2 separate regions of the Homo sapiens genome follow, and region 1 is linked to region 2. A link means that fine-mapping ties the variant in region 2 to the expression of a gene that starts in the linked region. Tissue or cell type: left ventricle. Region 2 holds a variant in brackets; the other region holds the start of a gene. All regions are shown on one strand. Distances are between the middles of the regions.

Region 1 (2,904 bases), 240 kb before region 2:
AAAGTCAAACTGGCAGCCAAAAAGTTGGGACTCGGCTGGTGTCACTGGGAGAGGCAGCATCGCCCCCAGGGGTCCGGGAGCCCGTCTGATATCCAGCCCCAGCCCGTAGAGCCAAGCCCTCAGCTGCCAGGGCTGAGGTCGCACTCGCATGGCACCTGTGTTCATTCTCTTTCACCTGGACTCCAGGGAGGAATGGGTGCTCAAAGATTGGGGGCCTCCTCCCTCCCCACAGTGCCACCTCCAGCCTCCCAAGCCCTCCTGCCCTCTTTCCTCAGGGGAACCCCCCACAGTGCCCCCTCCAGCCTCCCAAACCCTCCTGCCCTCTTTCCTCTGGGGAACTCCCTTTCACCACCTTCCCAAGTGGGAACCCTCCTATCCCTGGTCCTCTCCCTTCTCCTAGAAGCCCTCCTTCTCTTCCCTGGGGGTGCACTTCCTCCACTCAGGGCCCCTTTCTCTTCCGGATGCCCAATTCCTTCCCTGGTTTCCCTTTCTCTCCCCATGCCCCACGCCTCCGCTTTTCCAGGGTTTCCCTCTGTCCCCACTGGGTGCCCCTGCCTCCCCCTGGTTCTTCTTTCTCCCCTCTGATTTCCCCTCTCCCCTGGGATCCTTCCCTTTTTCTCCCATTTTTCCTCCCCAGGCACCTCCTCCTTTCCTGGTTCCCTGTCTTCCCCTACACCCCTCCCTCTCTCCCTCCCCACCCTCCTCCCCAGGTCTTTCCTTCTCTTCCCCAGGCTCCCCTCTCTTTCCCGGGGCACTCCCTACCCGCTTCACACACCCCCTCTTCTCTCCCCCTGCCCCTCGTGTCCCTGGGTGCCTCCTCTCTCCTCGCTTTCTCCCTCCTCCAGTGCCTCTTTCTCTCCCTACAGGAGCCCTTCCTTCTTTTGTGGGTACCTTTGAAGGGAGCCCGAGATTACCTTGCTCAGTTTCCATGGAGCAGGGAGTGGTGCCGCCCTCTAGAGTGAGGGGAAAGGAGGATGGGGCCAGGGTTGGGGGCAGGCACACTGAATTTGTGGGCCACGGACTTCCCTGCCCATCTACAAAATCTGCCACTTTCTTCCCCTTGGGCTGCCGGCCACAGCTGCCCTGCCCCATCAGTGTTTTCACCTGCTGGGCTGCTGCCGCCTCCCAATTCTGCCGCGGAGGCTCTGTGGCCCTGAGCCCTGGGACCCTATGCTCTATGCCCTTGACTTGAATAGCCCACTCTGCCCCACTGGTTCCCTGGAAACCCCCGCCCCCCAACTCTCTGCCCAGGCCTACCTGCTGGAAACTGCTCCCGCGCCTTCGCCCTGCCTGTGGGCAGTGCTAGGCCTGGCACGGGGCCAGTCTCTGCCTCCCTACTCCTGGTCCCCACCACTGTAACTCAATCCTAGCTCCTGCCCTGCAGGACACACCCCACCACACAGTGCTCAGCGGGCTAGGCATTCACTTAGTCAGCCAGTCAACAAATATCGAGCAAGCCGTCGGGACCAGCGCCCTCCCCAGGGCTATGGTTAAGTCTCCCAGGTCTCACTGCCTGGGTACCAGTGGCCAGAGAGAGCAGGGGATGGAGGCCTGGACTGGGCTAAGAGGTGGGGTGTGGAAGATACTGGGATTTCCTTCTCTGGAGTACTAGATGGGCCCCTGATCCCTCACCCGGAGTGGTGGGCTCCGCCTGGACCAAGAGGGCCAGGCCACTCCAGCAAACTTTAGGAGGAAGTAGGACCAAGGCTGGGGGCTGTGGGGTCAGGCTCTGTGAGACCCAGCTCACTTCAGGAGGGGAAGGTGGTCAGGGCTCCCTCTAGATATTTCTGCTGTCCCTACCCAAATGTGAGCTCACTGCCTGGCACAGCCCTCCTCAGGGAACCCTGATACCCATCATGGGAGAGGCCAGTCCAGCTCTTGCAGCGAAGACACCTCTCCCTCACCTCAGCTGCCACTCCACTGCCACTCTCTCTCTCTCACTGTGGGGTGGAGGGGCTGCAAACAGAGCCTTCCAGAAACTCCAGGGGCACAACCTCCTCTTGGCGGCTTAGGGCCTCAGTCCCAGCCAAGGCCCAGCCAGCGTGGGCCATCCCATCAAAGCCACGCTGCTAAAGCCTGCCCACTGCCCAAGACCCTCTCCCTGTGTTCAGTCTTCACCCCACAAAGGTCTCTGTTACAGGGGTCTGGGGACTTGGGGACTCGGGGGCAGTCTGTGTCCAGCAAGACCTACAGCTAGTGTGTGACTGTGTTTAACAGACACAATGCAGGGTCCCTGTGTGTGAAGGGATGCCTGTGTCACAGGCATTTGGCTCGTCCCCATGTGTGCCATTGCCTGTCCGACCTCATGTGTGTGCCTGTATCCTGGCATGTCTGTCTGATCCCCACTTGGGACAGGGACCCTGTCTGTGACAGTGGCAGTGTGTCCACTGTACCTGTGCATACCCGTTTCCCTGTCCCTTTTTGTCTCTGTGCCCAGGAAGACTCTGTGTCCTCACTTCTTCCCACCGACTCTTCCCCCATCTCCCCTCAGCCCACCCGCTCTGTTTGTTCTTGAATTCCCTGGCAATGGCTCTTTCCTAAGTCACCAATGCCCGCTGTCAACCAAGCGGCAGTCAGTTCAGTCACCATTGTTCCTTCCCCTCTCACTCCACCTGTCTCCTTCAGGCCTCTAAATGGCAGCAGGAGCAGAGCTTGGGCCTTCACTCCTGTTTGTTTTCCAGTTTCCTTCCCAGTTCCAGTCTGAAGGCTGCAAATAGCATGGAAACGCCAGTGTCTCCCTGACCCAACTCCCCCGAACCTTGCCCCGGCCTAAGTCTCCATCTTCCGTCTGTCACATCTCTCCCAGCACGTTTGGTCTCACATTTAACATCGCCTCAGGCCCCTCCCAGATCTACCCTCTCTGAGCCCCAGGAACACGTTCAGTGTGAACATCCAGAGGGTGCT
Region 2 (2,904 bases):
TGTAGCATCCTGGGGTCTGGGCATGCCTCCATTATTGCATTTGTTATACGGTATTACAATGGCATTTTATGTATCTGTTTCCTGCAAGACAGTGAGTTCTGGGGCAGATGTGGGACTTATTCCTCTCCTTGGAGCCTGGCACGTAATAGGTACTTGCTGAGCCAGTGTTTGTGAACAAATCAAGAATGATTTGTTACTAGTAATTTTGCTATTTCAGATAGACTAGAAAGGTCTGTCATTCTTCCCCTCTATTATTTTCATGATCATTACAACCTGGCTTCCTGATGGACAGACACTAGGTCCACAGTGACCTGTTTCCTTTTTTTTCTGTGCTGTGGGAAGTCAGAGTAGGGTCCACACAACCCCCGTGGGTGGGAAGCAGTGAAAATTGATAGTCTTTCCTCAGGCCACCACCGTGGCTCTGTTTTTAAGGTAAATACAAGCACAGCAGAGGGGCTCAGAGACATTAGCTACAAGGAAAGAAGATCACGAGCCAAGGCTGGGAGTTTGGAGTGGTTACACTTCATTAGGCTCCCCGTAAAAACCTCCCATATATAAGCCAGACACTCTCCACTTACAGACAGCTGGACCTCAAGAAATGCTTTGGGCAAACACAAAAGACTCTTTGGTGAAAGCTAGAGGCAGGTTGGTCCTGCCCAGGGACCCCAGAAGCAGCCCCAGAGACTTCTAAATGAATTCTGAACCAAGTCAGAAAACTGTGCCACACGTGGGTCCGTAGGTAGGGTGACAGCCCAGGGCCCATAGGGCGAGTAAGCCCATCCTCATTATGCTCTATGGATGATGATCACAGGCAATACAGACACCAAGGGCACTGTTAGAGAGGGAGAAACAATTTGAGGGTCCCAAGGGTGTGGAGAGGAATGACAGATGAGCCTTCCCTCCATGCCTATAATCTGTTTCTGCTTCAGTTGGCTTAACATGTCCAGCTGGTGCCCAGCTGTTCAGTAGCCTTTGGAGGTTGGGGAATGGTGGTGGCTGAGAGTGGGGGTGGGGAGGGAATGCCACCAGGCCAAAGGGTCACCTCCTAGTGCAGTACAGAGAATGAGTGCTGGTTTCTCCTAATAGGACTGAATTTCACTTGCACCAAGCCACCCAAATCCCCAGAATGAAAGCCCTGCTCCATTCAAAGTCCCATAAGGCCAAAGTGGAAACCGTCATGAGCTCTGAATCACACCTGACCCAGTGAGCATTCTCAGGCCCTACTGAGCAAGGGAGGGGCGGAGCCACAGGAGGCCCTTGCCGAGGGCTTTAAGGCAGAGGGTGTGCCAGCTGTGGGCCTCTGAAACAAGTATCTGGGGACTCTCGCCTCTTCACTACAGCACCTCATGCACTC[G/T]CTTTTATGCTTCTACTCTTGTTGTCATTCTGGGCTCAGTGGTGATCGTTTATAAGAACACAGAGAGCTTTCCTACTTGCTTAGTGAGATGTGCCAGTGAATTTACTTTTCCATACGATGAAGATGCCCACAGCCTTTGATCACAGGCTGGGCTATCCAGATGGAGACTTGGCCATCCTAGGGCCAAGTCTGTTACAGACTTTATGAAAATTCTAAATATAGTTTTGAAAATCCAAAGGATTTGTTTCTCAGAGCCCAAAGAACAGAGTGCAGCCAGCTCACACCACTTGGGTATCTGAGGGTCCACTCAGCCAGAACGATAGCCAGGCAGTTGTCCAGGTCTTCAGGAAACCACTTCTAATGCCTTCCATGCAAGCCAGCTATTTGTAAGTGTGAGCCCAAGTCCCTTCCAGTGGCTTTTCCTTGGCTCGATGATCAGTAAAGAGGAAAAGGGGTATCCCTGGTTTTGGGGTACCTTCAGAATCTGAGTGACTTAAATGTCTTGTTTTGGTCAATAGATGATTTTGCCCATAGGAAAAAAAAAGGCTCCTGCAACACTGTAGATGTTCACGTGAACAACTCAGAAAGCATGCTCTAGGAAGAGAACACTCCTAGATGCTGGGGAAATGTGGCATGGTCAGCATGGTTAATAATATTTAAGAGGGTAGCCAGAAGCCTGTGTGGTTTGTTCACCTCATGCTAAGTTCCAACCATAGTACATCATAGGTGCGGAACACTGGCGGCTTTCTTCTGCTGGGTCAGCAGAGCCCAAAGACAAGGGGATGCCATGGAACTGGAATGGAACATCATGAGGGATGTTAACATCTGAGCTGGCATCTCGGGAGGAGTGACCTGTTCTACATTCAACATTCACATGCGTCTGGTTTTCAGTCCACATGACCCAGAGGGCAGCAATGCCAGAAATTACTGTCACCATCACACAATGTTTTCTGAACCTCCACCCTGTGGGCTGTGTCCTCTTCAACTCTCGGCTCAGATATTCACCTGCTCCATATGGGCCTTGCTGCCCTGATTTTCAAGCTATCTATGGAAAAACTGTCCCTTTGGCTGAATGTCCTTCACGTGCCCCTATAGAGAGCAATGCTTTCACAATCCTCTCAACATGGACTGCAGGCACTTTCCCTGTGCAAAATGCACTCAGCAAAATGCATTCAGACGCATGCAACTGCAGATGCTGCTGGGGGTTCCCAGAGCCAGCGAAGTCCATCCCAGGAGCTGGTTCGTAATTAACTCTTCCCCATCTCCAAAGAGGTCTTCTTACAGCATTAACCAAATGGTCTCAATGTAGAAATTCAGGTATCACAGGTCCCCTGGCCTCTCCAGATATGTCTCCAAAGGGTAGAATGAGTTGAATTTTCCAAACCCTCAAGGTGGATGTCAGGGTAGGGTGGAATACAAAATTTGAATGGGCTGGCTCAAAGCTGAAAGCAATAGTGAAAACAAATGGAGAACTCACCACCATTTCCTGGACATGAAACATCTCTGCACCACCAGATGAGAGTCGATTAGGGAAAGAGATGCTGACAGAT

Evidence for each region. PIP is the estimated chance that this variant, and not a neighbour inherited with it, causes the effect.
Region 1: it holds the start of VILL, and the variant in region 2 is the best candidate, but not a certain one, in a credible set for the expression of VILL in left ventricle (GTEx, PIP 0.89).

The regions. Positions count from the first base shown.
Region 1 is chr3:37,989,183-37,992,086 of GRCh38, reverse strand. VILL (villin like) reads right to left here and starts at 1,301. Exons shown (of 20, transcript NM_015873.4): 1 at 1,258-1,301.
Region 2 is chr3:37,750,497-37,753,400 of GRCh38, reverse strand. It overlaps ITGA9 (integrin subunit alpha 9), which reads right to left. Exons shown (of 28, transcript NM_002207.3): 23 at 2,832-2,904. Among named protein-coding and RNA genes, the nearest start is that of ITGA9-AS1, 110 kb to the left of the region's middle. The variant G/T (reference allele first, on the strand shown) is at 1,355.